Linked DNA regions of Homo sapiens: all the other regions are linked to region 6. The links come from fine-mapping of genetic effects on plasma protein levels. A gene starts in region 6. Each other region holds a variant in brackets. All regions are shown on one strand. Distances are from middle to middle. Region 1 overlaps GFOD2 (Gfo/Idh/MocA-like oxidoreductase domain containing 2). Region 2 overlaps CDH3 (cadherin 3). Region 3 overlaps CES2 (carboxylesterase 2). Region 4 overlaps KCTD19 (potassium channel tetramerization domain containing 19). Region 5 overlaps NFATC3 (nuclear factor of activated T cells 3). Region 6 holds the start of LCAT (lecithin-cholesterol acyltransferase). Region 7 overlaps ATP6V0D1 (ATPase H+ transporting V0 subunit d1).

What was found. PIP is the chance, under the fine-mapping model, that this variant and not a neighbour inherited with it causes the effect. The UK Biobank Pharma Proteomics Project read protein levels with antibody pairs (Olink). The fine-mapping took linkage between variants from a reference panel, not from the people measured, so its PIPs are less certain.
Region 1: its variant is fine-mapped to the plasma level of the LCAT protein (UK Biobank, PIP 0.99).
Region 2: its variant is fine-mapped to the plasma level of the LCAT protein (UK Biobank, PIP 0.92).
Region 3: its variant is fine-mapped to the plasma level of the LCAT protein (UK Biobank, PIP above 0.99).
Region 4: its variant is fine-mapped to the plasma level of the LCAT protein (UK Biobank, PIP above 0.99).
Region 5: its variant is fine-mapped to the plasma level of the LCAT protein (UK Biobank, PIP above 0.99).
Region 7: its variant is fine-mapped to the plasma level of the LCAT protein (UK Biobank, PIP above 0.99).

The regions. Positions count from the first base shown.
Region 1 is chr16:67,683,108-67,687,220 of GRCh38, forward strand. GFOD2 (Gfo/Idh/MocA-like oxidoreductase domain containing 2) reads right to left here. Exons shown (of 3, transcript NM_030819.4): 2 at 2,350-2,695. The coding sequence starts at 2,608. Among named protein-coding and RNA genes, the nearest start is that of C16orf86, 18 kb to the left of the region's middle. RefSeq lists enhancers at 409-1,608, 2,655-2,714. The variant A/G (reference allele first, on the strand shown) is at 1,574.
Region 2 is chr16:68,684,218-68,688,330 of GRCh38, forward strand. It overlaps CDH3 (cadherin 3), which reads left to right. Exons shown (of 16, transcript NM_001793.6): 10 at 366-607; 11 at 988-1,133; 12 at 3,295-3,519. It also overlaps the pseudogene HSPE1P5. Among named protein-coding and RNA genes, the nearest start is that of CDH3-AS1, 40 kb to the left of the region's middle. The variant C/T (reference allele first, on the strand shown) is at 1,979.
Region 3 is chr16:66,936,018-66,940,017 of GRCh38, forward strand. CES2 (carboxylesterase 2) reads left to right here. Exons shown (of 12, transcript NM_001365405.1): 2 at 2,020-2,224; 3 at 3,200-3,341. Among named protein-coding and RNA genes, the nearest start is that of CES2, 2.5 kb to the left of the region's middle. The variant C/T (reference allele first, on the strand shown) is at 1,860.
Region 4 is chr16:67,291,758-67,295,870 of GRCh38, forward strand. It overlaps KCTD19 (potassium channel tetramerization domain containing 19), which reads right to left. Exons shown (of 16, transcript NM_001100915.3): 9 at 3,506-3,648; 10 at 3,216-3,299; 11 at 2,823-2,937; 12 at 1,787-2,414; 13 at 1-80. Among named protein-coding and RNA genes, the nearest start is that of PLEKHG4, 14 kb to the left of the region's middle. The variant G/A (reference allele first, on the strand shown) is at 1,590.
Region 5 is chr16:68,143,068-68,147,067 of GRCh38, forward strand. All of the region lies in intron 3 of NFATC3 (nuclear factor of activated T cells 3), which reads left to right. Among named protein-coding and RNA genes, the nearest start is that of NFATC3, 60 kb to the left of the region's middle. The variant G/A (reference allele first, on the strand shown) is at 1,508.
Region 6 is chr16:67,943,410-67,947,520 of GRCh38, forward strand. It overlaps LCAT (lecithin-cholesterol acyltransferase), which reads right to left and starts at 711. Exons shown (of 6, transcript NM_000229.2): 1 at 539-711. The coding sequence starts at 692. SLC12A4 (solute carrier family 12 member 4) reads right to left here. Exons shown (of 24, transcript NM_005072.5): 16 at 3,922-4,026; 17 at 3,528-3,696; 18 at 3,029-3,224; 19 at 2,762-2,931; 20 at 2,542-2,673; 21 at 2,355-2,462; 22 at 1,960-2,144; 23 at 1,678-1,811; 24 at 65-1,522. The coding sequence ends at 1,431.
Region 7 is chr16:67,470,598-67,474,597 of GRCh38, forward strand. All of the region lies in intron 1 of ATP6V0D1 (ATPase H+ transporting V0 subunit d1), which reads right to left. Among named protein-coding and RNA genes, the nearest start is that of ATP6V0D1, 8.6 kb to the right of the region's middle. The variant T/C (reference allele first, on the strand shown) is at 1,747.

The DNA.
Region 1 (4,113 bases), 260 kb before region 6:
GTGCCACCATGCCTGGCTAATTTTTAAACTTTTTTGTAGAGACGGGATCCCACTATGTTGCCCAGCTGAGAATTCAGTTTCTAACAAGCTCCCAGGTGATGCTGCTGCTGGTGGAGCATACCAAGAACCAGAAAAAAAGCAAGCTTGTTGCCAAAGAACCCTGGGGTTTCCTCTTTCTTCCCGTATAGCTTGGAAATGGTCTCTGTGGGGAACCCTAAAATTCAGGAAGAAGACTGAGAGCCTCCAGAGTTCTGGCTCCGGACACACCTCACCTTTCCAGCCTGCATTCAAGCCACAAGGGATGGCAAGGAGTCAAGTGACCAATAGCGGCTTGCTTCCCCTTGAACCAACTTGCTGCTAAAGTGTTGACTTAGGTCTATTTCTGAATTCAATCTGGGAGCCACCATCTGACCTCCCAAGCATTTGGTGACCAATGAATGAATAACTCCAATGTCACACATCCTCAGAGAGAGCTCTCTGGAAGAAACAAACAATAAGGCCAAAACTTACTTGCTCCAAATTGACAACCGGACAGACTGAAGTTCTTTCTCACTTCAAAGAACATTTATCCTTCCCTACCCACTGAGCCAGAGGTGACAGACACCTTCCTATGACATTCCTCAGAATGAGGGAGGAGATAAGTAGCAGACCCTGAGGTTTGCCACCATGGCAGTGGTCAGGAAGAGTGGAGGACAACCTCATGGCACCGGTTCCTCGACCTAGAGATCTTCGGCTGCATCAAGGAGACACTTGGCTCCTATTACCTCACATAAAACAGTTACTCAGTCAAGTAAGTATGTGCTAGTTGAATTGTGACTATGTCTTCTGTCATCTACCTTGTAATGTGTGTTATTTCTAGTTGCCTCAATTGGACTATAAAATCTGAAGACAGGGAGGGGTCCAATCTAACACAGCTTTGAATGTCCAAAATGACATCAGGACAGTGACTGGCACACAGGAGGCATTAAAAAAATAATTGAGGCTGGGTGTGGTGGCTCCTGCCTGTAATCCCAGCACTTTGGGAGGCGGCCAAGGCAGGTGGATCACCTGAGGTCAGGAGCCCGAGACCAGCCTGGCCAACATAACAAAACCCCATCTGTACTAAAAAGACAAAAATTAGCTGGGCGTGGTGGCACATGCCTGTAGTCCTGGCTACTTGCAAAGCCGAGGCAGGAGTATCGCTTGAACCTGGGAGGTGGAGGTTGCAGTGAGCTGAGATTGCACCAATGCACACTCCAGCCTGGGCAACAGAGTGAGACTCCATCTAAAAAAATAAAATAAAATAATAATAATAATTTTAAAAAAATGCTGGGCATGGTGGCTCACACCTGTAATCCCAGCACTTTGGGAGGCCGAGGCGGATGGATCACCTGAGGTCAGGAGTTCGAGACCAGCCTGGCCAATGTGGTGAAACCCTGTCTCTACTAAAAATACAAAAATTAGCTGGGTGTGGTGGCAGGCACCTGTAATCCCAGCTACTTGGGAGGCTGAGGCAGGAGAATCACTTGAACCTGGGAGGCGAAGGTTGCAGTGAGCCGGGATTGCGCCATTGAACTCCAGCCTGGGCAACAAG[A/G]GGGAAACTCTGTCTCAAAATAAAATAAAAATTGCTGGCTGAATGTTTACTGGTTTGTTTACTTAGTAAACTAGGTTCTGATTTATATTAGATAAAGAGAAGAAGTTGACTCCAGTTGACTGGAAATAGAAGACCAACGGGAACTGTAGGAGAACAGCTCAGCAGGCCATGCCCAGTCAGGGGCAAGAGGTTACCAAGCCCAAAACTTCCCAAGGGAGTGGAGATGTCATGTAAGCAGGCTGTCGACGGATCCTGTCAGGGAAGCCCAATGCTGGCAGAGCCTTCCTGTCCTCCGGCAATACAAGACTGCAGTTTGGCAGGAAGGGTGTGTGCTCACTATAGTCAAACGCTGACAAAACATGGGAAATGGTAGCCTTGCTACACAGCCTCTCCTTCCTGTGGTGCTGTGTGCCCCAGAAATGGGAGAACAAACACACTAGTCACAACCAATTCCCCGCCACCCAGGGCTCTGACCTCTAACTTCACAGAGGCAAACTTTATGTTGACTGAGATGCAACCATCTCCAGCCCCTTGATGGCTGTCTCTTAGAGTATTTCCTTAATTTCTGTTCAGGGATTTACAGATGGGAGGTAGGTTAGGCTATGTCTTTTTTCATGCCCTCCCCAAGCACTGCTTCAGGGACAAGTGATGTCCCAGAGTTCTCCTCCCTGCAGATGCGAGCCCAGGAAGGAGAGCTCAGAGGAGAGGAGTGACCCTCAGAGGACTGCCCAGAGGGAGAGACATGATCTGCCCCTGCTGTGGCCTGCCGGGCGTACCTAGAGCCTTCACGGATATCTGCCGGGTGAGTGGAGGGGGGATGCTGATGCACACCAGATCCACATCTTGATGCAGCAAGATGTCATCAGTCCGGCTGGTGTAGAAGGCGATGTTCATCTCCTCAGCAAGCTGCTTCGCCTCCTCCTCAGTCTTCCCCCACAGGGCCTCAACAGTGAACCCTTCTGCCCTCAGCAGTGGGACCAGAACTCGGGCGGAGCTGCCAGTCCCAAACACGCCCACTCCTGGCAGCATCTTCATCCCAGCCTCTCTCTTTACCAACTCATCTCCTCACAAGAGCCTCTGGCATGGATATGATCTTCCAAACGTCCTGGTCAGACATGGCTCCTAGAATAGCAAACATTACACTGGTTATTACTGGAGAGGACACTCAGCTGAGGCTACTTTCTTTTTTTTTTGAGATGGAGTCTCGCTCTGTTGCCCAAGCTGGAGTGCAGTGGTGCGAAGGCTACTTTCAAATAAGGAAGTAACAAGTTCTCTGCCAGAAAAGCACAAATGAAATAGGGCTCGAGGCCAGGCATGGTGGCTCATGCATGCCTGTAACCCCAGCATTTCAGGAGGCCGAGGTGGGAAGATCACTTGAGGCCAGGAGTTTGAGAGTAGCCTGGGCAACACGGCGAGATGTCATCTCTATTAAAAAATATATATATTAAAAAATAGCCAGATGTGGTGGCATGCGCTTGTTGTAGTCCTAGCTACCTGGGAGGCTGAGGTGAAAGGATCACATGAACCTAGGAGTTCACAACTATAGTAAGCTATGATTGTGCTACTGCACTCCAGCCTGGGCAACAGTGCAAGACCTTGTCTCAAAAGAAAAAAGAAATACTGTTCCAAGATGAAACACTGCAGAATCTTCTTCTTCCATGGAGACTGAAGGATAAGAGGAAAAACGGAAAATGAATAAAGTTGAGTTTAAATCTCTGTTCTGCTACTTAACTTTCTGTGTAACCCTGGTCAAAAGATTCAACTTTCAGGGCCTTAAATGTATAATAAGGGGAGTGATTGATCTTTAAGGTTCCTTCTTGCTATAAAAGTTCATGATTCTATATATGACAAAGAAAAGAAGAGTGGAGGCCAGGCACAGTGGCTCACACCTGTAATCCCAGCACTTTGGGAGGCCAAGGCGGGCGGATCACCTGAGGTAAGGAGTTCAAAACCAGCCGGGTCAACATGGCCAAACCCCATCTCTGCTAAAAATACAAAAAAAAAAACTAGCCAGGTGTGGTGGCAGATGCCTGTAATCCCAGCTCTTCAGGAAGCTGAGGAAGGAGAATCATTTGAACCCAGGAGGCAGAGATTGCAGTGAGCCAAGATCACACCACTGCACTCCAGCCTGGGCGACAAGAGTGAGACTCTATCCAAAAAAGAAAGAAAGAAAGAAAGACTGGAGGCCGGGCGTGGTGGCTCATGCCTGTAATCTCAGCACTTTGGGAGGCTGACGTGGGTGGATCGCTTGAGGTCAGGAGTTCGAGACCAGCCTGGCCAACGTGGTGAAACCCCGTCTCTACCAAAAATATAAAAAGTTAGCCAGGTGTGGTGGTGCAAGCCTGTATTCTCAGCTACTCGAGGGGCTGAGGCAGGAGAATCACTTGAACCTGGGAGGTGAAAGTTGCAGTGATCTGAGATTGTGCCACTGCACTCCAGCGTGTGTGACAGAATGAGACTCCGTCACAAAAAAAAAAAAAAAAGAAAAGAAAAAGAAGAATGGAAAACAAAAACCAGTTCAAGAGGAAAGTGAAAGAACT
Region 2 (4,113 bases), 740 kb after region 6:
CAAGATCCTGTCTCAAATAATGGTCTCAAGCAATCCAGCAGCCTTGGCCTTCCAAAGTGCTGGGATTACAGGCATGAGCCACAATGCCAGGCCCCCCAGTTTTCTCAAACATCACCACCACTCCACTGGGAACCATTGATCTAGGGCTTATTAATACAGTTACTTTTAGGATGGTCTGAGAGGCCCCATTAGATGTGCACTCAGGAAACACGGGAGTGTTTATGTTACAGAGAAAGGGCAGCACTGTTGCTAGTGAGGGCCTCAAGCCCCTCAGTATTGGTGTTTTCCTTCTCACATCTCAACTGTCCTGCACAGGACCTCCTCTCAAAATGGTGGTCCAGGTCCTTCTTCCTCTTCTCTCCTAGGGTTTGGATTTTGAGGCCAAAAACCAGCACACCCTGTACGTTGAAGTGACCAACGAGGCCCCTTTTGTGCTGAAGCTCCCAACCTCCACAGCCACCATAGTGGTCCACGTGGAGGATGTGAATGAGGCACCTGTGTTTGTCCCACCCTCCAAAGTCGTTGAGGTCCAGGAGGGCATCCCCACTGGGGAGCCTGTGTGTGTCTACACTGCAGAAGACCCTGACAAGGAGAATCAAAAGATCAGGTACTCAGGAGCTGGGCTCAGTAAGCAGCACGTACTGGTACAGTTGGTGGGTGGGTGATCATGGCCAACGTTTGTTCTGATTACCATAGAGATTGTTAAATAGGAATATCCCTCCTGCATAGGTTCTCTTCTTCCTACCCTCTTTGAGGCTGAAGACTGAATAGGGGTTTGGGGGCAGGTATTTCTCACTCTGTCATGTATCCCTCCTGGGACTCCTGCACCTGCTGCTTTAGGTCCCCGTTTATGGGCGAGGTGCATTTTCCATATGATCCTGCTTAGGAGCCCAGAGGCCATCTGCCAGTTGGTATGAGGAGGCCCTGAATGATGACATCAGAATTCTAAATATTCTGGATGTACTCGTCTCAACTTTTCCTCTCCAGCTACCGCATCCTGAGAGACCCAGCAGGGTGGCTAGCCATGGACCCAGACAGTGGGCAGGTCACAGCTGTGGGCACCCTCGACCGTGAGGATGAGCAGTTTGTGAGGAACAACATCTATGAAGTCATGGTCTTGGCCATGGACAATGGTGAGAGCATCCTCCCAGCCCTCCCACAAGGGCCACTTTTGGTTCTCAGGTCACATGACACAGCACAGCATGTTTCCTCCACAGGTGGGAACATGTGTCGAGGAGGGCTATTTGCAAACCAATCCAGACGGTCAAAGGGGTCTTTCAGAGGAGTCTTTTAAAGACTGGTCCTAGGCCGGATGCAGTGGCTCATGCCTGTAATCCCAGCACTTTGGGAGGCCAAGGCAGGTAGATCACCTGAGGTCGGGGGTTCGAGACCAGCCTGGCCAACATGGTGAAACCCCGTCTCTACTAAATATACAAAAAATTAGCCGGGTGTGGTGGTGTGCACCTGTAGTCCCAGCTACTCCGGACGCAGAGGCAGAAGAATCACTTGAACCTGGGAGGTGGAGGCTACAGTGAGCCAAGATCGTGCCACTGCACTCCACCCTGGGTGACAGAGCGAGACTATCTCAAAAAGCAACAACAACAAAAGACTGATCCTAGGGACTGGCCATGATTCCAATTTCCCTAAAACCCAAGAGTTGGGAGGGAGCCAGGTGTGGTGACTCAGGCCTGTAATGCTAGCACTTTGAGAGGCCTAGGCAGGAGGATCACTTGAGCCCAGGAGTTCAAGGCTGGCCTGAGAAACATACAGAGACCCTGTCTCTACAAAAAATGAAAAATTAAAAAATAAGAGTTAGGGCCGGGCATGGTGACTCAAGCCTATAATCCCAGCACTGTGGGAGGCTGAGGCAGGTGGATCACCTGAGGTCAGGAGTTCTAGACCAGCCTGGCCAACATGGCAAAACACTGTCTCTACTAAAAACATAAAAAATTAGCTGAGTGTGCCGCCTCCCAGTTCC[C/T]GCATCAGTGGCCTGCACAGGGCCCTTGGGGCGAATTGCAGCACGCCTCGGGGCGAGCGGCAAGGGCTGGGGTGAGTGCACCTGCACCCAGGCGGTCTTTTCACGTGTCGCCAGGGTCAGACCGCATGTCTCTCCTTGCGGCGCTACACAAGAGCAGAGTACGAGTCTGAGGTGGAGGGAGTCATGGCAGGACAAGCATTTAGAAAGTTTCTTCCACTCTTTGACCGAGTATTGGTTGAAAGGAGCGCCGCTGAAACTGTAACCAAAGGAGGCATTATGGGTCCAGAAAAATCTCAAGGAAAAGTATTGCAGCAACAGTAGTTGCTGTTGGATCGGATTCTAAAGGAAAGGGTGGAGGGATTCAACCAGTTAGCGTGAAAGTTGGAGATAAAGTTCTTCTTCCAGAATATGGAGGCACCAAAGTAGTTCTAGATGACAAGGATTATCTCCTATTTAGGGATGGTGACATTCTTGGAAAGTACGTAGACTGAAATAAGTCACTATTGGAATGGCATCAACGTGAAGCTGCCCATTCCACTGAAGTTCTGAAACCTTTCATCATGTAAATAATTTCCATATTTCTCTCTTATAATAAACTAATGATAACTAATGACCAAAAAAAATAAGCTGGGTGTGGTGGCACACGCCTGTAGTCCCAGCTACTCAGGAGGCTGAGGCACGAGAATCACCTTAACCCAGGAGGTGGTGGTTGCAGTGAGCCGAAATTGTGCCACTGCACTCCAGCCTGGGCAACAGAGTAAGACTCTCAAATAAGTAAATAAAACATCAGCATTAGGAAAGTCCCTTCAGCCTTAGTTTTTGGTTCACTGGGTCCTGAATTGGCCTGTCAGTTTTCCCTTGTGATTGATTGATAGGGGCTGACTGGAAAGTGCCATGACAGATTAGTGATGCCACACCATAACAGATGGGAGGTTATGACGTAGTTGTCACCTCTGGTTGACATGTAATGAACCAGGACCTGCAGGCAGGTGAGAGGTTGCAGCAGGGCTGTGAAGGGAAGCTTCCCTGAAGCTGATCGACAAACACTGGAGTAACCCTGAAGTAGCCGGTAGGTTTCGCCTTGTGGTTATAGTGGCTGTCTGGATGAAGTGGCTGCAACTGTGTCATGATAGTTAGTAATGTCTGCTGTGGACAGAAATGAGAATGATGGCTCAACTGGCATGTATGTGCCATGTATTGGAAGCAAGGGCATGGAAGGTCTTGAGAGGTGAGAGCTGGGCGGTAAACAGGAGGAGCCCCCCTGAGGCTGACTGGGTGGGTCACAGGGAGCTCATCATATGTGTCATTACAAACAGGAAGCCCTCCCACCACTGGCACGGGAACCCTTCTGCTAACACTGATTGATGTCAATGACCATGGCCCAGTCCCTGAGCCCCGTCAGATCACCATCTGCAACCAAAGCCCTGTGCGCCAGGTGCTGAACATCACGGACAAGGACCTGTCTCCCCACACCTCCCCTTTCCAGGCCCAGCTCACAGATGACTCAGACATCTACTGGACGGCAGAGGTCAACGAGGAAGGTACCTGAGTGAGTGGTGGTAGCGGGTGGGGTGCCAGCCCCACTGGTGGGCATCTGCCCCACACCAGGATTCTGCACACGTTCCTATCCTAGCATCTTGTGGGCCATGGGGACAATGATCTCCTCTAGAACCTCAATCAGATGCTATTTATTAACCTGGTGGAGGTCTTTGAAATTCCACAGGACCCCTAAAAGACCATTCTAGCCCAACCGCCTTCCTGTGTAGATGGAAAAACTGAGGCCTCGAGGAATCGAACCTATGTAGAGCATGTGAAGTGGACCTGGCACAGAGCATGCTCAGTGAGTGTTGGCTACGATCACTGTGCTGGGTCCTGACTCTCGCTATGTGACATGGGCCAAGTCACTCCCTCCCTCTCGAGGCCTCAGTTTTTCCATCTACACAGGAAGGCGGTTGGGCTAGAATGGTCTTTTAGGGGTCCTGTGGAATTCCAAAGACCTCCACCAGGTTAATAAATAGCATCTGATTGAGGTTCTAGAGGAGACCGTTGCCCCCGTGGCCCACAAGATGCCCACCACACCCGGCTGCGTTATGGCTTTAAAAATAATGTCATGGCCACACGCAGTGGCTTACACC
Region 3 (4,000 bases), 1.0 Mb before region 6:
GGGGATTCAGTCCATTTCCCTCTTATGATTGTGGCTGTAGCGGGTGCTGCCGGCCGGTAATAACAGTAATAGCTTCTGGCAGCATCTGGCTCTCAGTGTGTGGCGTCCTTGGCCAGGGGGGATGCCCTGAGCCCTCCAAAGGGGCCTCAGACAAGGATAGTGGTCCTTGGGGAACAGAAGCCCCCAGGCGCCAAATCCTAAAGCAGATCTAAGAGGCCACAGTGGCTGGGTGCGATTGGCTCACTCCTTTAATCCCACCACTTTAGAAGGCCAAGGGAGAGTATCGCTTGTGCCCAGGAGTTGGAGGCCAGCCTGGACAACATAGTGAGACTCGGAGTGTACAAAAAATTGAAAGAAATTAGTGGGCTGTGGTGGTCTGTGACCTGTAGTCCCAGCTACTTGGGAGGCTGAGGTGGGAGATCACTTTAGTAGGGGAGGTTGAGGCTGCAGTGAGCCTTCATCCCACTACTGCACTCCAGCCTGGGTGAAAAAGCAAAAATCTGTCTCCAGAAACAAGAACCAAAGAGCTCGTGGTGTCCCTCATGCCATTTACCTCATCCTGGGCAAGGGCACAACTTGGCTTCCAGGGCAAAGGTGAAGGCTCTGTGTGCCTGCCAGGCTTCTCCAGGCCCTTATCAGAAGCTGGGGGAGTGTTTCGGCCTTTGGTCCTCTCACCCGAAACTCTCCTAAGTGTATGATCTGTCTCTTCCAACCCTTCCCCAATTTAATTTGCGCAGGTGGAGTCCATACTCCCCCCGCCCCATGGTGCACTGCTGCAGGGCTTCCTCCCGTGCCTGCCCTTGACCACATTCTAGAGTTCACCAGGAGCCCAGCAGGAAGATCTGCCTGGCCTCACAGATGGCTACCTTTTAAAATATTTTGGGCCAGGCACAGTGGCTCACACCTGTTATCCCAGCACTTTGAGAGGCAGAGATGGGAGGATCACTTGAGGCTAGGAGTTAGAGACCAGCTTGGGCAACAAGACTTGTCTCTACCAAAAAAAAAAAAAAAAAAAGTCAAGCATGGTGGCAGACAGCTGTACTCCAAGCTACTCAGGAGGCTGTGGCGGGAGGATCTCAAGCCCAGGAGGTGGAGGCTGCAGTGAGCTGTTATCATATTACTGCATTCCAGCCTGGGCAACAGATGGCGACCTTGTCTGACAAATATATATGTATACAAAATTTTGGGTTGGACCCACATTCAGAAAAAATAATTGACAAGCCATAGGAGGGTACAGGTGATGTGTGCCATCCTCTTTTTACCCAACCAGTCCTGGCTTCTCCTCAGGGGCCATCAAAGTCCCCATGGCCCACACTGGAAACTGCTTGTTGACACCGCAGTACACACAGTGCCCAGCAGTTTACACAAGAATAGATGTGTGCACTTGTCCTTGATTTTCATCTAAACAGTCATAAACTCACCCACTTTCTGGAGCCAGGCTTTTCTACAGCTGGGACTACAGGCATGCACCACCACACCCCGCCAATTTATTTCCTGATTTTTTTGCAGAGACAGAGTCCCACTATGGTCCCCAGGCCAGTCACTGTGCTTTTTATATCCCAGCCACAGCCATACTTTTCTCTTGCACCTCTTTTCACCAACATCACTCATGGTTTGGATGATGCTTTCTTTACATGATTTCTTGCCACTTTGGACATGACATCCCTGAGGACAAGAAACTTGCCTGCCCAATTCCCACCATCATCCTACTGTCACATGACCTGGCACACAGTTGAAGGACACTCTAGTCCCATCAAGGGCATGTGACCCTTTGTTTGAAGGTCCTAGGGCTGAATGATGATGCCTGGCCCCAAGGAGCCTCAGCCTGGTGGGATGGAGACAGGCCCAGGAAGCCAGAG[C/T]GGGAAGGGAGTGTTACAGGCAGGAAGTTTGTAAAGCCCATGTTTACAGATCAGAGTCCCTTGAGCTAAGATGAGGATGGCAAGGAAGCAGCAATACCAACAGTTGGGAGGGCAGTCGATTGGTCAAACCCAACCGTGATGTCTGTCTCTCTGCCCACAGGCCAGGACTCAGCCAGTCCCATCCGGACCACACACACGGGGCAGGTGCTGGGGAGTCTTGTCCATGTGAAGGGCGCCAATGCCGGGGTCCAAACCTTCCTGGGAATTCCATTTGCCAAGCCACCTCTAGGTCCGCTGCGATTTGCACCCCCTGAGCCCCCTGAATCTTGGAGTGGTGTGAGGGATGGAACCACCCATCCGGCCATGTAAGCTCTCCAAGGGGTCCAGGGAACTCCAGGCCCTGGGGCAGGGGTGGGGGTGCTCTGAGCTCAGCTAGGCTGCAGTTATCATTTCATCTAAACCCCCACAGCCAGTTTTCCTTCTGAGTTTCGTGGATTCCCACGTGCATTTTTCCAATGAGCATGCTGAGGCTCAGGAGGGCAGAATAACTTCTCAGACTCCTGGATCAGGGCTTGGCATTCAGAAGACATTGGCTCCAGGTGCCGAAGGGAGGGGCAGACACACGTATCTCCCCAGATTCTGGTTATGCCAAGCTTTCTCTGCCACCAGTGGCAGGTGTCTCTGGGAAAGGTTCGGGTTGGCTCTATGAACCTTGTAGGAGCCCCTAACTCTAGTGGCAGATGTTGCAAATACCTGAAGAGAACAGTAGTGGTAGCTTTCTGGGGACCTGCACTCTCCACAGGCACTGTGTCCACTGACAGGACCAGGAGCCATTGGCCAAGAGACATGTATATGTATATGTATATGTTTCCAACTGGAGGCCATGTAGGAATGATGAGTTTTTGAGAGTTTAGACTTGGGATGAGAGACATCCCACTGCCCTTCTCATGAGAAATTAACATCCATTCACTCATGTAGCACACATATGTGGGCTACTCCCCTGTCCCAGGCCTTACGGGTTACAGGAATATAGTGGTGAATGTCAACACATGCAGCCAATGGTTCTCATAGAAACCCCTAAGAGTCAAGGTTTCCGGCAGTGCGAGGAATGATACCCAAGGTCCTCAGTAACCTCGAGGCCTCCCTGGAAGTCCAAGCTGCATCCCAGCTTCCCCAGAGCCTGTGGCCTGTAACTTGGTGGGAAGGGATTTTTGAGAGGGATCATGTGTGAGCAGGATATTGTGGGAAGGGTCTGAGGGTGGCTGGGAGCACCTCTGAACCCAGGGTCTGGTTTTGGCCACAGCCTGGCCCCTGGACTGATTATTTGCCCTGGTTACCAGGTGTCTACAGGACCTCACCGCAGTGGAGTCAGAGTTTCTTAGCCAGTTCAACATGACCTTCCCTTCCGACTCCATGTCTGAGGACTGCCTGTACCTCAGCATCTACACGCCGGCCCATAGCCATGAAGGCTCTAACCTGCCGGTGGGTGTCAGGCCACAGTTCACTGGGGGTTGGAGGACAGTTCTTCTGCAAGAAGCTGAAAAGGACAATATTAGCTCAGGCCCTGCTTCAGAGTGGACCATGCTGAGAAGCTTCTCACTGTCAGGTCCAAGAAATGCTCCTTACCCAGACTGGGCAGCTGGCCCCTGGACATGGGGTCACAGAGTTCTGGCTGCTCCCAGAGGTCAAAGGCTGTGGCTCTGGGCTGGACCCAGGACTCACTCAGCCAACTCATGCCAGGAGATCCACTTAAGTGCCAAAGGGCTGCACCTTGAGGTGACCAAGAACCCCAGCCATGGATAATCTGTTGGGCCTATAGAATGGGCACACACAAAAACTTTTTTTCTTAGAGATGGCATCATGCTCTGTTGCCCAGGCTAAAATGCAGTGGCATGAACATACCTCTCTGTAACCTCGAAATCCGGGATGATCCTCTCAGATTAGCCTCCCGAGTAGCTGGGACTACTGGCCTATTCCACCATGCCTGGCTCATTTTTAAAACATTTTCTGTTGAAACGGGGTCTCACTATGTGGTTCAGGCTAAGGACATTTTTGGTTAATGTTCATGTGGAGCCATCAGGGAGACACCCCTTTTCTTTCCACTTTGGTGAATTATCTGGGGTTAATGAACCCAGGCTTTG
Region 4 (4,113 bases), 650 kb before region 6:
GGGGTGAGTCACTTTGAGGATAACCCCTAGGCTGTCCACCTCACTGGCCTCGGGCAGAGGCTGCTCAGGGGCAGGGCTTTCTGTGAAAACAACATAGGGAGGGGGCTCTCCTTTTAAAAAAAAATTTTTTTTCAAGATAGAGTTTTGCTTTTGTTGCCCAGGCTGGAGTGCAATGGCACAATCTTGGCTCACTGCAACCTCTGCCTCCCAGGTTCCAGCGATTCTCCTGCCTCAGCCTCCTGAGTAGCTGGGATTACAGGCACCTGCCACCACGCCCGGCTAATTTTTGTATTTTTGGTAGAGATGGGGTTTCACCAGGCTGGTCTCGAACTCCTGACCTTAGGTGATCCACCCGCCTCAGCCTCCCAAAGTGCTGGGATTACAGGCGTGAGCCACACGCACAGGCTTTTAAAATTCTTTTCTTCAATTACCATCAAATCTTCATAAGCAGGGACTCTCCTTAAGCCACCTCAGAGCCCAAGCAGGAAGGGGACCTCTGGTGACAGGCCAGTACAATCAAGTCACCCCAGCCTTGCAACAGCTGCCACCTCTAGTTTCTCAGAAGTGACACCCTGGGCTGGCAGGGGCCTGTCCTGGCCACTCCTCTCTTCATTGCCCTGGCATCACTGCAAGCCAAATCCTGAACATTTTGGAACTCGAAGAAACTCCAGATTCCTCTGTTGAACTAAGACGTATCAAATGGGGCTGAGGGCTGGAAATCTTTATAAAATTTTAAGTTGAGAACTTTTGGGGCCAGCCTTTGATGCATGTCCAAAGAGTGGACATTTGTCATCCCAACCTTGACAGACCAACTTAGGGCTCACAGGCAAGAGTCCAAGAAGGCCCCTCCAAGCAGGGCTGGAGCCACTAATAGGGAAGGTGACAATACTGCAGGCAGGGCTTTGAGGGAGCAGAGGCAGCATCCTGGCACAGCGATTTTCAGCACAGTTCCCTGGCCACCTTCCCTTAGCTGGCTACACAAGCTCTCTCTCCAGTTCAGTCCCTGTAGCCCCTGCTGTCTCCTGGGCTTCTCCACCTGGATGTCCCTCGGCATTTCACACTCAGTATGTGCCCTTCCCCAAGCTCTGCTCTTTCTCTTACCCACACCTCAGTAAGGGCCTATCCACCCCCTTGCAGTCCCACAGGCTAGAAACCTGGCTTCTCCTTGGCCCATCCCTCCTTCCCTCCACTACCTGCCTAGCCTGCTTCCCCTAGCCTAGAAAGAACTCCAAGTGGCTTCGAATACCTAGCTCCTGCTGCATTTCCTCTGCTCCTGGAGCAAACTTTCTGATGGGCACACCTGACCCCGTGCTCTTGTCTAAAATCCTTCAGACGCTGCTCACTCCCATCCTGGTCAGAATGGAGTACCACGTCCTGAAGCTGGCCCACGAGGCCTGTCCTTATGACTTCTGTCTTCAGCCTCATCTTTTATCACGTCTGCATGTGAAGCCTGGCCTCCAGCTAGACCCATGCCCTGCGCTTCCAAACATCCTGGACTTCTCCTTCCTTCCCCTGCTGACTCCCCAGCCCTCAGCCTCTTTTGTGCTCCTGCTTCATAGGCACCTCCTTCCCACAGCACTCATCCCTTC[G/A]CCGTGTGTGTTCTCCTGGCCCCTCCAGCCATGCCAATGTGCCAGTCATTTCTGTGTCTGCTGCCTGGCACAGAGATGGCATTGGTGAGCGGGGGGGTCTAGTCCTCCTTTGTCACTAACTTGCTCTGCCATCTTGGCCAAAGAGTTTGCCTTCTCTGTTGTGAATAAGACTTAGATCAAAGGGGGACAGGACTCACCTCTCTCCTTGGTCCTCTGCTTGCTCCAGTCCTTCAGGGTGCCAGCTCTTTTTGGGGGTAAGTATGGCTTGAAGGTTGGCTCTGGCCCCTTGTCTTTCGCTCCAGCTCCAGCCCCTGCCTGTGGTCCTGGATCCTTCTCTGAGGCTGTGGAATGGGCTTTCCAGGCAGCTGAGGTGCTGGGCTGGGAAGCAGCCTCGCTTCCCAAGGGGAGCTGCAGGGTGGCCTCCTCCAAGGGGCTGCTCCGTGTGGCTGTCAGTGGCTGGAATTCCCACTGTTTGCAATTGACCATGTCCCATTCTCTCACCAGGGAGATGAGTTTTTGCATGGGAGTGGCGGGAGGGTCTTTGGTTTCAGATTTCTGTGTGAGGTTGATTGTGGTGCATTTCTTCTTTGGGGGGCTCTCAGGGTGGCTCCCCCAGTGTCCAGGATTGGTACACAAGCCACGGCAGTGTGAGTATGTGCTAGGGTTGCCAGCCCTCTTGGCATTTCGGCATAGGGACACCTGGATGGGCCGAGTGTACTGCTCAGCCTCATCCATCTGGTTGGACCTGACCAGGTTTCCCTTAGCCTTGTTCCATGGAGTCCTGTCACTGCAGTCTTCGAAGTCCACAGGCATGTAGGCTGTGGTCTGGGGAGGGAAGGGCACAGTAACTCTGGATAGGTTGGGCATGGACATCAACGCCTTGCCCAAGATCTAATAAGCTGGGCCTCCAAGACTTCACTTGCTCTCCCTGAACAATCCCATCCCTGACAGGGGTCACCCATTTGAGCTTTGCTCAGGCTGAGTGGGGATGGTGCCAGCCCAGTGGCCTGTCATTCCAACAGGAGATACAATCAGCATCGCAGGCCACAAGTGGCCAGTAAGTTCCTGTGCCTCCTTCACGGTTCAGAAGCCAGGTCCTGTCCTAGGAACCCATGTAGGCTCTGCTCTTTCATTTTGCTGCACCCACCAGTAGCTGAACCTACCCCCATCCACCCTGAGCCCGGTGGTAGTGGTTTTTGAGGATAACACCAACCAGAGGAGGCTGGTGCTTACTTCTTTAGTGTCTCTACTGAACTCCACCAGTGACCCTGGCCCTTCTGTCACCACATGCAGCCTCCTGATGGAAAAAGCTTCTTCATTTTCAGATTCTTTCTCCTGAGTCCATGACCTGCAGAAACCAAGAGGGGTTGGTTAGTGAGTAGAGACTTCCATCAGGCCATTGGCCAGTTGGTCAGATCTGCTCTTTGGCTGGGAGTTAATGCTAGACAGCAGGGAAGAAGGGGCTCTTAAAGGGTTTTGCCTAGGTCACTGGCCAATCCTGGGCCTGCTTCACTCCCTCAACCCCAAGGAGATCAGGATCCTCTAGGAGTAGGACTTAGGACAGGATTTCAAGAGGAATTTAAAGGACCAAATTCTAAACATAGAGTCGTGATAAAGTTTTCTTACTTGTATGCTTCACATTGTGCAAGGGCTTCTGAGAGGGATGGAATGTGGTATTCCTCCACCTCCTGGCAGAAGAGGGGCCATTCCCTGCAAACAACAAGGAGATATCCAGCTGGGCAGCTAGGATGAGGGTGTGGGAGGGAGCATGAGCTCCTGGAACTGCCGCTGCCAACAGTTCCCACGATGGAAATAAAATAACCTCCTCCCTGAAGGCTGCAACTCAGGTCTCCTTTGTTGCTAAGGGAGGGGTCAGCCTTCGTGATTTCATCTTACTGCGTCCTTGCTTCACTTACTTAAATTCAGATGGTAAAAACAGTTTGCCAAGTCTCAGGAAGTTGAGAATGTGTCGGAACATCTGGCCATCCCCGTGGATGAGCAGGGTTTGTCCATATGTGATCCAGTACACTCTCTGAGGGTTGGACAGCAGTTCTGGATACTGGAGGGGGTTGGACACCGGACTCAGTCTCAGAGGCTAGGTCTTTGCGAAGGGGCAGGTCAATCTTCTCTCACTCCCCTTTTCCAACTACACTAGAGCAGAGGCTTTGAGATTCCATTTCCCTGTCTTGTCAGTCACAAGGAACCATGGTGGGGAGCAGAGCTTCCAGGGAGAAGCACATCATCCCTGCTTCAACTTTTGATGGCCCCTAGACCACCCTCTCAAGGCATTTGGAAGCCCACCGTACCTCCTTCTCAGTCCAGGTCCCTCAGAGCTGGCCCCCTCCCTATGCAAACTCTGGAGGGCCTTCCCAGCAGGCCACTCGGTCCACTTGTGCTCTGTTTTGTTTTGTTTTTTGAGGCAGAGTCACACTCCGTCACCCAGGTTGGAGTGCAGTGGCGCGATCTCAGCTCACTGCAACTTCTATCTCCTGGGTTCAAACAATTCTGGTGCTTCAGCCTCCCA
Region 5 (4,000 bases), 200 kb after region 6:
CCAAAAAATAAAAATAAAAAATTTAACCAGGCATGGTGGTACCCACCTTGAGTCTCAGCTACTTGGGAGGATTGCTTGAGCCCAGGAGGTTGAGGCTGCAGTGAGTTATGCACTGTAGCCTGGGAAACAGCAAGACCATGCTAAAAAAAAAAAAAAAAAAAAAGGAAAGAAAGAAAGGCTATATAGTTATAAAATTGGGTTTTATTTATCTAAAAATATTAGCATTGTAGGAATTACTTGAGATACGTTACTTTTTTCAAAATGTGAAAATCAGCTGGAATTGTCAATTTTTAATTTAAAATAGGTAATAGTAACTCTATGTAACATACTGTTTATAGACAAAGATGAGTATTCTTTAAGAGGTTTTATATTGTCTTTTTAGTAAATAGTGCTGGAGCAATTGGACACCCATAAGGCAAAAGAATAAACCTTAACCCAAACCTCACATCTTTCTCAAAAATTAATTCAAAATGGGTTGTGGATTTAATTATAAAACACAGGTCAGGAGCGGTGGCTCACACCTGTGACCCCAGCATTCTGGGAGACTGAGGCGGGCAGATGACCTGAGGTCAGGAGTTAAAGGCCAACCTGGCCAATATAATGAAGCCCCATCTCTACTAAAAAATAACAAAAATTAGCTGGGCATGGTGGTGCTCACCTCTAGACCCAGCTAAGTCTGGAGGCTGAGGCAGGAGAATTGCTTGAACCCAGGAGGTGGAGGCTGCAGTAAGCTGCTATCACACCACTGCACTCCATCCTGGGCAACAGAGCGAGACTCCATCTCAAAAAATAAAATAACCTAAAAAATAAAGCATAAAAGTATAAAACTTTTAGAAGAAAACAGGAGAAAATCTTTAAGATCTCAGGCTAAGCAAAGATCTCTAGAACATAATACCAAAAGCACCATACCTAAAAGAAAAAAATTGATAAATTGGATTTCATCAAAATTAAAAACTTTAGCTCCGTGAAAGATGCTATTAAAAGGATGAAAAGACAAGCTACAGACAGGGAGAAAACATGTGCAAAGCATATATCTGTCAAAGATCATAGAATGTATAAAGAACTCTCAAAACTCAACAATAAAAACAGTTCAGTTAGAAAAGATGCCAAAGACATGAACAGACATCACCAGCCATTAGGGAAATGCAAATTAAAACCACATTGAGTTATCATTACATACCTATTAGAACAGCTAAAATAAAAAATATAATACTAACTGTTGTCAAGGATGCACAGAAACTGGATGCTTCATAAACTGCTAGTGAGAGTTAAAATGATACAGCCACTCTGGAATATAGTTTGTTAGGTTCTTAAAAAACTAAGCTTCCCTTATGCCCCACCAATCTCACTCTGGGGCATTTATAACAGAAAAAAAAAAACTTATGTTTACACAATAGGTATACTAATAATATTCGTAACAACTATGTATTATCATTATCATCATCATTATTTTTTTTTGTAGACACAGTGGTTCACCATGTTATCCAGACTGGTCTTGAACTCCTGA[G/A]CTCAAGCGATCCATCCACCTTGCCCTCCTAAAGTGCTGAGATTACAGGCGTGAGCCACTGCGCCTAGCCTCAACTTCATTTTTTTATTTTTTTTATTTTTTAGATGGAGTCTTGCTCTGTCACCTAGCCTGGAGTGCAGAGACTCCATCTCAGCTCACTGCCACCTCCGCCTCCCAGGTTCAAGAGATTCTCCTGCCTCAGTCTTACGAGTAGCTGGGATTACAGGTGCCTGCCACCACGCCCAGCTGATTTTTACATTTTTAGTAGAAACAGAGTTTCAACATGTTGGCCAGGCTGGTCCGGAACTCTTGACCTCAGGTGATCCACTGGCCTCAGCCTCCCAAAGTGCTGGGATTACAGGTATGAGCCACCGCACATGGCTGCCTCAACCTGATTTTTAAAAATTTTTTTCGTAGAGATGGCAATCTCACTATGTTGCCCAGGCTGGTCTACAACTCCTAGCCTCAAGTGATCCTCCCACCTTGGCCTCCCTGCCGTGGGATCACAAGCTTGACCCACTATGCCTGGCCTAACAACCAACTTTTCTTTCTCTCTCTCTTTTTTTTTTTTTTTTTGTGATAGGGTCTGGCTCTGCAGATTGCACATCACCCAGGCTGGAGTGCAGTGATGCGATCTCAGCTCACTGCAACCTCAGACTCACAGGCCCAAGCCGTCCTCCAATCTCAGTCTTCCTAGTATATGGGACTACAGGTGTGCGCCACCATGCCCAGCTATTTTTATGTTTTTTGTAGAGATGGGGTTTCACCATCTTGTCCAGGCAGGCTGGTTTTGAACTCCTGAGCTCAAGCGATTCATCCACTTCAGCCTTCCAAAGTGCTAGGATTACAGGCATGAGCCTCCACGCCCTGCTGCACTTTATTTTTAATAGCCCAAGGTTATAAACAAACCAAATACACGAATAAACTCTGGTGTATCCATACAATGTACTACCACTCAGCAATATAAAAGAATAAACTGTTGATACATGCAACAACTTGGACAGTTCTCCATAGACTTATGCTGAGTGGAAAAAAGTCAATATACTATATGATTCTATTTATGTAATATTTTCAAAATGACAGAACTGTAGAGATGGACAATAGATTGGTGCCAGGAAACAGGGTCAGGTTGAGGGGTGCAAATATGAAGGGGTGGCCCAAGAGAATTTCTTCATATCTTGACTGGGGTAGTAGTTATTTGAATCTATATATGGGATAAAATTGCATAAAACTATATACACACATACAAATGAATGCATGTAGAACAATGACAACTGAATAAGACCTGTAGTCTAGTTAGCAGTATTGTATCAGTGTCAATGTCCTGGTTTTGATACTGTGCTAACTACAGTTCAATATTGTGGGTATATGTACTGTATTATAGTTGGGGGAAACTAGGTGCAGGGTACATGGGGCTATAGTATCCCTTGTCTGCTTGGGATCAGAAGTCAGAAGTGTCTTAGATTTTGGATTTTTTCAAATTTTGGAATATTTCCAGAATACATACTGGTTGAGCATCCCTGATTCAAAAATTTGAATTCCAAAATGTTCCAGTGAGCATTTACTTTGGGTGTCATATCAGTGCTCAGAAAGTTTCAGATTTTGGAGCATTCTGGATTTTCAGATTAGGGATATTCAACCTGTAGTACATATACATACTATTTTTGCAACTTCCTATGAGTCTAATTATTTAAGAAGAATAAAAGTTTTAGCCAGGTGTAGTGATGTGATTCTGTAATCCCAGTTACTTGGGAGACTGAGGCAAGAGGATCACTGCTTGAGCCCAGGAGTTTAAGGCCAGCCTGGGCAACATAGCAAGACCTTGTCTCCCAAAAGAAAAAAAAAAAGGATTTTTTTTAAAAAGCTTATATATTATACAGTGGTAAGTTTTATTAAGGTATACATATTTTGAATCTTATCCCAAAAGTTACTGAAATTTGAAAAATGAAGTTTGTATTATTTTTTCATTTTTATGCATACTTTCATTTTAAGCAATTTATATTATAGAAATTTAATTTTGTATTTTTAGTATTTCTACAATGTGTTGTCATGGGTCTAATATATTTAGAGCCCATTCCCCCAACTAATCAGCAGAACTGATAATGGAACTGCTCTTATTGAAGTTGCTGTAGTCTGTCCTGTAGTGACCTTCAGGCTTTAACCCTCCAGCTTTAGTTAAATTAAGCAGGCACAGACCTTTGCTATGGAAACGATACAGAAACATAACAAACAACTTGGCTTACTTTCTTCTGCGAAGCAGAGGGTGGACTGAAGAGATTACTGATACTGGTGAAAGTTTTTAGAGACTAGTGTTAACAGTAGTAGTAATTTATTTATTGCCTACAACATAAATGCTTCTCTGGAAATCAGATGGGATAATAGTCTAATTAGTTTATTTGATCTTCCTTTAAAAGTCTCTCAGATAGAAAGGCATAGCCCTATTTTTCTTATGGTATTATACATCTGGAACAGATGTTGGTCAAAATATGTGTT
Region 6 (4,111 bases):
AGGAAGGGAAGGCGCTGAGGTGCTGAGGCCAAGGCCGCTGACCCCTGCCTCTGCAGAGCAAACACCCAGTCTGGCGCTCCTTTATTGCCAAAGTCCAAGGTGGGAACAGATAGGTCTGGGGGCATGGGGGCTGGGCCTAATAGGGGCCGGGCATGGATGGGCCTCTCCTGCTCACCGATCCTGGGCTGGGCATCTTGTCCTTGGTGGGTGGGGGCCAAGGAAGGAGTGGTGGGGCTTGGCCCAGAGTCTGGTGTGGCTGTGACTGACCACAGCTTGTGATGCCCCAGCCAAGACCTCAGGCACACCCCGTCCCCCACTCCGCCCCCCCTGGGTTAGACAACTGAGAGTCACAGTGTGGTGGGAGAAGGGACGTCATTCCTCTAAGGGACAAGCTTTTGGCCCCTCCCCACACCAGGGCAGGTACTTATGTCGGGGCTTATGCAGGGCAGAAGGGCTTTGGCCAGGTCAGCTGCCAGGGGCTGGGGCCCAGGCTCCCCAGGGTCTGGCGTGGTGCATCAGGGGCCTGGTGGGGGCTTACCGAGGATGACGGGCCGTGTGTGGTTACTGAGCTCAGCCTTGGGCGTGGTGTGCGGGGGGAAGAGCACATTGAGGAGCCAGAAGGGGGCGGCAGGAGGGAGCAGCAGCCCCAGCAGCAGCGTCACCCACTGCCATGGGGAGCCGGGCGGCCCCATTCCAGCCCTGGTGCCTACTGCCAGAGAAAGCGGCACTGGGCTGTCCTTATCTGGTGTGGGAGTGGGAGGGGCCCTAGGGCCAGTGGGAGGGACGGCCTGGCCAGTGGGGGTTGTGGCCAGAGATTGCCGGAAAGGGGCACAGCCTCAGGGAGCCGGCTCTGGGCCTGGGTTCAGTTCCGCCTTCTTCTCTTGGCGCCAGGGGAAACAGAGCCGGGGCAGCAGGAGGCCCAGAACTACACAATGTTTTATTGAAAAAGTCAGGCCTCAGCTCAGCTGTCTCCATTCGGCTCAGCTTGGTGGGGGGCCCTGCCCATAGTAGACTGAGCCAGATCTTCCTGCAGGCAGCTGGGCTGGACTCCCTCCCTGGCTACCCTTCCCTTCGTCTCTGATGGTGACATCCAAACAATAAATATGCAATAAATAGCGCTCCTGGGCTGGGCCGGGCCGGCTGCCTTCAAACCCCACTCGGCCCCTACCAGTCTTCTCTGGCCAGGACAGGCCTACTGGGGTGCTAGATAGTAAAGTCCCCAAACATCCCAGGGTCCCACAAGACCTGGGATCCATCTCCATTTTGAGGCCCAGGCCTGGTTTCCAAGGAGACCTAGCAAAGCTGGGTCCAGGACAGGGCCAGGCAAGCAGGGCTGGCAGGTGGGTGCTGGGAAGAGGCTGTTACCCCAGACCACAGCTTGTTATGTCCTGGCCAAGACCTCGACTCCAGGCCACAAGATGACACTGGGCTCAGGAGTAGATGGTGATGACTTCACGGCCACCACCGCGCACCAACAGCACCCGCTCAAGGCCCTCGGTCAGCACCTCGAGGAACTCCATGTCTGCAGGGCCTCAAGTCAAGGAGGCAACAACAGAATCAACGGGCAACCCGGGCCACCTGGGCCATGCCCACCCAGGGGTGCCCAGGAGAGAAGCCGCTGGCTTGACCTCCCATGCTATCCACCTCCCAACTGCCTGCCTCTCCACAAAGGGATACAGTTCTCGTCGCCCTCACTGTTCCTGGGTGGGCCAGGCATGTTTAGGAGAACCAGGCGGGCGTCGTGGGAGCGCGTGACAATGACTTCATTGAGCTTCACAGCAGTGTGCATGCGCCGCACATTGGATTGGTCCCTACACGTAGTGTAGCCAGTCACAGGTCGCCATGAGCCATCCTGCAAGGAGGGTCCCCACCCCTGGCCCATCTAACACTACTTGTCTGCCCCACCCCACCTCCACCCCTAGATTCCAGTGCCGCTGGGGCTGTTTTTGCTGCACTCACGGCTTAATGTGCACCAGCTCCCGGAAATTGTCAGGGGCATGGCTGGGGTCCCAGGTCTCAGTCATGTACTTGTCCCTGGTCCACGTCATCTGGATCTTGTCAGCCCCCACTGCAGACTCATCTTCCTCGTCCGAGTACAGGCTCTCCAGCCGCAGGGCCGAGTGCCGATCCTTGACCAGCTGGGCCTGAGGACAATTGCAGGAGATAGCCTTGGTCCCATAGGAAAAGGGGGATGGGGCCTGTCTGGCCCAATGTGACCACCTTGCCTCCGGGAAATGAGCACTAGCTTGGGTAGGGCTGCGGTGAGTCATTCTGATTCCTCCGCACCCACCGATGCGGTCTCCAAAGGCCTGACCCTGCCACCCGCCCTGGCGTGAACCACAAAGGGCACTGACTTCTCGCTCCCGCTCAGTCTTGGTCAGTCTCATCTGCCGCAGCATCTGCGACCGCTGCTCCATCATCAGCGTCCGCTCGTAGGTGTATGCAGAGATGTCACTGTTATGCTGGGGACAGGGTTGGCCGTGAGGACCCAGCTGCACGGGACATGGTATCCACGGGGCCAGGGCAGGGCAGAGGGCTCACCATCTCCACCACCTCCACCTCGGCCTCAAGGCGCAGATGGTACAGAAAGACAGCCAGGTCCTTCTTCATCTGGATGCTGTTGTCATCCATCTGGGCCACTGTGAAGATGCGCATCCGGCACTTCCTCCAGACCTGAGGCAAGGGACCAGGTGGGCGGTTTGGTCACAGCTGCTCCTCCAAGGGCCTAGCCCCTCTCATCTGCACCCACCCCCTGGTCTACCTTATGCTGGCGCAGCAGGAAGGGCAGAAGCATGAGCATGCCACCATCGTGCACGATCCACCACACGTCTATGTGGCCCTCCAGGTAGCGCTCGTGGTTGCTGGGGTAGAAGGCGATGTTCTTGGGCACGAGCAGGGCCAGGTGGGCAGCCGTAGTGCAGCGCACGGTGTCTGGGGAGGAGGAGCACGGCTGACCACCAGTCTGTGGCCCTCCGCCCACTGCCACCTCACTTCACCCCTGCCCACCAGGCCCCAGGCCTTCACACACCAATGAAGGTCTTCCAGGCACGGGGGTCCTCGCTCTGTCGCCAGCCGTAGGGCCAGCCCAGCACCACGGAGTTATGCCGCATGCCTCCCAGGCCACAGGACTGGATGAGGTGGGCCAGCCCCTCCCGCACCTTGCTGGCCACCACCACCTGGCAGAAGCCCTTCACCTTCTCAATTTCCATCATGTTCTTGATGGTCTGTGGGGAACACACCCAGGGCCAATGGGAGGCCATCAGCTTCCTGCCTCTGGGCTCCCTCCCAAGGCCCCTCGGGAACAAAACGACTTTTGGGTGGAGGAGGGCCTGGGGGCAACAAGCTGCCTACCCAGAGGCCAAGTTTTCAAGATGGGACTGCTGGCTCCCCCTTGTGCCAGCTCTCAGGTGGCAGCAGTGCTGGCTGCCTGGCTGGCCACCCTGGCCAAGACTGGGCCCTCCCCTCCGTGCCAGCTGCAGTCCAGACCCCTGTAGTCTGGCTCAGCTCTCCCTCCCCAAAGCAAGTACCTGCTCGGCGGCCTGAGCCTCGCCATAGCTCTCCAAGAAGCTCCCCTGGATGACAGAACCAACAATGGTCAGGCCCTTGCCAGCCTTGAGCTGGGAGGCGAAGGTGAGGAGCCGCGGGTACTTCACGTGGAGGTCCTCGTCCAGCTTCAGCAGCACCAGCAGCTGCGGCCTGCAGTGGCCGGGTGGGGGGAGCCTGAGACCAGGGCCGGCCGTTCTAGGGAGCCCCTCCTCTTCTTCCCTTCTCGGGTCGTGGTCCCTGCAGGTTTGGGTAGCATGGCCCAGGAGGGTGCCCCGGGCAGCCCCAGGATGGGGAGCCGGCACCTCTCGACCCTCTGACCCCGACAGCGACCCCTAAGAACCTCTGCGCCCTGGCCAGGGTCTGGCGGGAACTCACCGCCAGTTCTTGGTGTGAGGAGGCCCCTCCTCCAGCCGCAACAGCGCGTAGCGGGCAGCGCTCAGGGACAGGCCTCGGATCCCGTCACCCCACTCCTTCTCAGCCCTGCAGATTCCACCACAGCTGGTGAGCCCCTGGTGCCGCCCAGGGGGTTCTGTCTATGTGGATGCGAGGTGGAGGGGTTCTGCCC
Region 7 (4,000 bases), 470 kb before region 6:
GGCCTGGCGCGGGCCTAACTGCCACCAGCCAGTGTACTGGTGACTTCCAGGTTAATATCTTTAGTGTTACTATCTCACACAGCCAACTGCCTGCCGGACTCCCTCAGACATCTGAGATAGAATACTTCCCCTCCCACCCCCCAATCTGCACCCCTAACTTTCCTATCCCTTCTCTGGTAGCCCGTATCTCAAAAGGAGCTCCAGCATCCACCCAGTCATTTATTAAGCCAGCAGCCTGACTTCTAACCCTCTTCACCCACATCTAATAAAAACTGGACCAATCTTGTGGGTTTCATCTCCCAAGCTGATCTCTGACCTGGTCCTTCATCCCCCCTCATTCCACTCCAGCCCTGGTTAGTCCATATTCTCCTACCTAGAGAGCTGCAAGAGCAGCTAGCAAGTGTCCTGCTTCTGGCCTGCTCCCACAAATCCATCCTCTAGAGCCTCAGAGCAAGTTTCTTTTTTGTTTATAATTGACGTGTAACAATTGCACATATTTATAGGATACATGTGATATTTTGATACATATATACACTGTGTAATGAATGATCAATTCAGGGTAATTAGCATATCCATCAACTCAAACATTTATTATTTCTTTGTTTTTGAGACAGAGTCTGGTTCTGTTGCCCAGACTGGAGTACAGTGGGGGTGACCCTGGCTCACTGCAACCTCTGCCTCCTGGGTTCAAGCAATTCTCCTGCCTCACCCTCCCAAGTAGCTGGGGATTACAGGCATGCGCCACCACGCCCGGCTAATTTTTGTATTCTTAGTAGATATGGGGGTTTCACCATGTTGCCCAGGGTGGTCTTGAACTCCTGACCTCAAGCGATCTACCTGCCTCAGCCTCCTAAAGGGCTGGGATTACAGGCATGAGCCACCACACGTGGCCTATTATTTCTTTGTGTTGAGAACATTCAAAATCCTCTCTTACAGCAGTTTGAAAATATATAATGAATTATTGTTAAATACAGTCACCCTATGGTATAGAATAGAACTTCTCCTATCTAGCTGTAATTTTATACAGATTAATCATCCCCTCCCTCAGAGCAAGTTTCTTTTTTAAAAAAAATTATTATTAATTTTTTTTTTGAGACGGGGTCTCTCTCTGTTGCCCAGGCTGGAGTGTAGTGGTGTGATCACGGCTCACTACAGCCTCAACCTCCCAGGCCCAAGCGACCTTCCCACCTCAGCCTCCCATATTATTATTTTTTTAGAGATTGGGCCGGGGGGTGGTTCTCACTATGTTGCCCAGGCTGGCCTCAAACTCCTGGGCTCAAGTGATGCTCCCACCTCAGCCTCCTCAGTGGCTGAGATTACAGGCGTTAGCCACCACACCAGGCCCAGTGAGTTTCTAATTGTATCATACCACCAACCCTACCTCCTCCACAATTCCCCTTTTCTTCACCCAGTGAGGGGTTAGGTTCCCACACTGGCTCATGACAGCGAGATGCCAAACCTCCCCCCTGCCTAGCCCTAGCCTCCATTCCTGCTCTGGGGCCTCATTCTCGCAGGCAGCAGCAGCAGCAAGCTGGAGGGGAGCAACAGGTGCAGCAGGCTGCCAGACACCACCAACAACCTGTGCCAGTTCATCCGCCACTGAGCACTGGGGTCCCCTTGTGCAGCAATGCCACTGCCCAGGGCAGTGGGGCCAACAAGAGGGAAAAACTTCAGGCTTGTGTGGGGTCCAGGCTCTCACAACTCAACATGCTCATTCCCTTTCTTCCACAGAGTAAATGTTCCTTC[T/C]ATTATTGCCTTCTGCACACCCTTCTCCCAATGCCCTCCCCCAGCCCCCAGCTCCTCTCTCTTGCTTGTAGTCACTAGATTGCCAGTACCATGTCATCTCTTCCTTTGGATCACGTTTGACTCAGAGGAATTTAGGACTGAGCTAAGCTCATCTTGCTGTCCAAGTTGTGGTCATCTAATTTCACCAATTCAATAGAGTTTCCTTTGACAAACAAAATGAAATGTATAAAATATTTCCAGGCGGCTGGGCGCGGTGGCTCATGCCTGTAATCCCAGCACTTTGGGATGCCAAGACGGGAGGATCACGAGGTCAGGAGATCGAGACCATCCTGGCTAACACGGTGAAACCCCGTTTCTACTAAACAAAATACAAAAAATTTGCCGGGCGTGGTGGCGGGTGCCTGTAGTGCCAGCTACTCGGGAGGCTGAGGCAGGAGAATGGCGTGAACCCAGGAGGCGGAGCTTGCAATGAGCCAAGATCGCGCCACTGCACTCCAGCCTGGGCAACAGAGCAAGACTGTCTCAAAAAAATATATATATATTTCCAGGCAAGAGCATACACAGAAAATCCTAAACAAGACATTTCCTACACATTAACCTTAATCTAAGAATCTCTCTCTTTTTAAAACAATTTTTTACCATAACTTTCATCCTTCCTGAGCAATATGTCCTTCTAAGACACCCACAGCCTTCCAGGAACCAGCCCAATGCATCTATCCAGACCTCGCTGCTGCAAATCCTCGACACACACTCTACTTTCTCCTTCCACCTCCCAAGGCTGCTGTCATGCACGAGGCAGTTTCGTGTTTCTGAGACTACTAATGCCATTCCTTCTCCCTATGCTCTTCCCACCTCTTGGCCTGGCTAATTTGGGGCTGGGGGGGGTGGCGCAGCAACAGCTTTACTGAGATATAATTCATTTGCCATACAATTTGCCAACTTAAAGTGTACAATTCATGGTTTTAAGCATACTCACAGAATTGTGCAACCGCCCCACAATCAGTTTTAGGACTTTTTTTTTTTTAGATGGAGTCTTACTCTGTCACCCAGGCTGCAGTGCAGTGGTGCAATCTCAGCTCATTGCAACCTCCACCTTCCGGGTTCAAGCGATTTTCCTGCCTCAGCCTCCCAGGTAGCTGAGGTTACAGGTGCCCGCCACTACGCCCAACTAATTTTTTGTGGTTTTGTTTGTTTGTTTGAGACAGAGTCTCGCTCAGTCGCCCAGGCTGGAGTGCAGTGGTGCAATCTCGGCTCACTGCAAGCTCCACTTCCCAGGCTCATGCCATTCTCCTGCCTCAGCCTCCCAAGTAGCTGGGACTATAGGCGCCCACCACCATGCCTGGCTAATTTTTTGTATTTTTAGTAGAGACGGGGTTTCACCGCATTAGCCAGGATGGTCTTGATCTCCTGACCTCGTGATCTGCCCACCTCGGCCTCCCAAAGTGCTGGGATTACAGGCATGAGCCACTGCACCCAGCCAATTTTTTGTATTTTTAGTAGAGATGGGGGTCTCACCATGTTGGCCAGGCTGGTATCGAACTGACCTTGTGATCCCCCCGACTCGGCCTTCTAAAGTGCTGGGACTACAAGCATGAGCCACCGTTTCTGGCCAGTTTTAGGACGTTTTTATCACCCCAAAAATAAAGCCCATACCCATTAACCGTCACCCACCACATAACATCCCCTCCCTAAAGTACCCTGCACTTACTGTGCACTCAATGCTGTTTTGATGGTCACTCAGTCTGCCTGTTAGACAGGCACACTTGCCCTAAGCAAGACCTGTGTGACATACTTGTATTAGCCACTCAAGGCCCACCATGGCACCTGTCTCCTAGGAGTGACAGCAGGGAATGACCACAGTGGAGCACCTGGCCTCTCCAACTGTTCACTTGGTCCCAGGCCCTGTGCTTACACTTCACAAACATCTCAGAGACCCTAATATTATTCCCATTTTACAGCTGAGGATAAATGACTTGTCCAAGGTCACAAAACCAGTTAAGTGGCTGCGCTGGGATCAGTCCATCAGTAAGGTCTTCTCTAACTGTCTAGACATTGTCTCTGCCCATCCACTGCGGTCACCTTCTAGCCTCACCTTCTTCTGTTCTCATTAAGGTCTCCTATGACCTCTGAATGGCAAAACCAAATGGAAGGCTGACTTTATCAATCTCTTGGCCACATTTGGCACTCACTACCTCATTTATTTTCAGGCTCTCCTTTGGAGCTACCCACATTTCAGGGAATGCCTTTGGCCTTT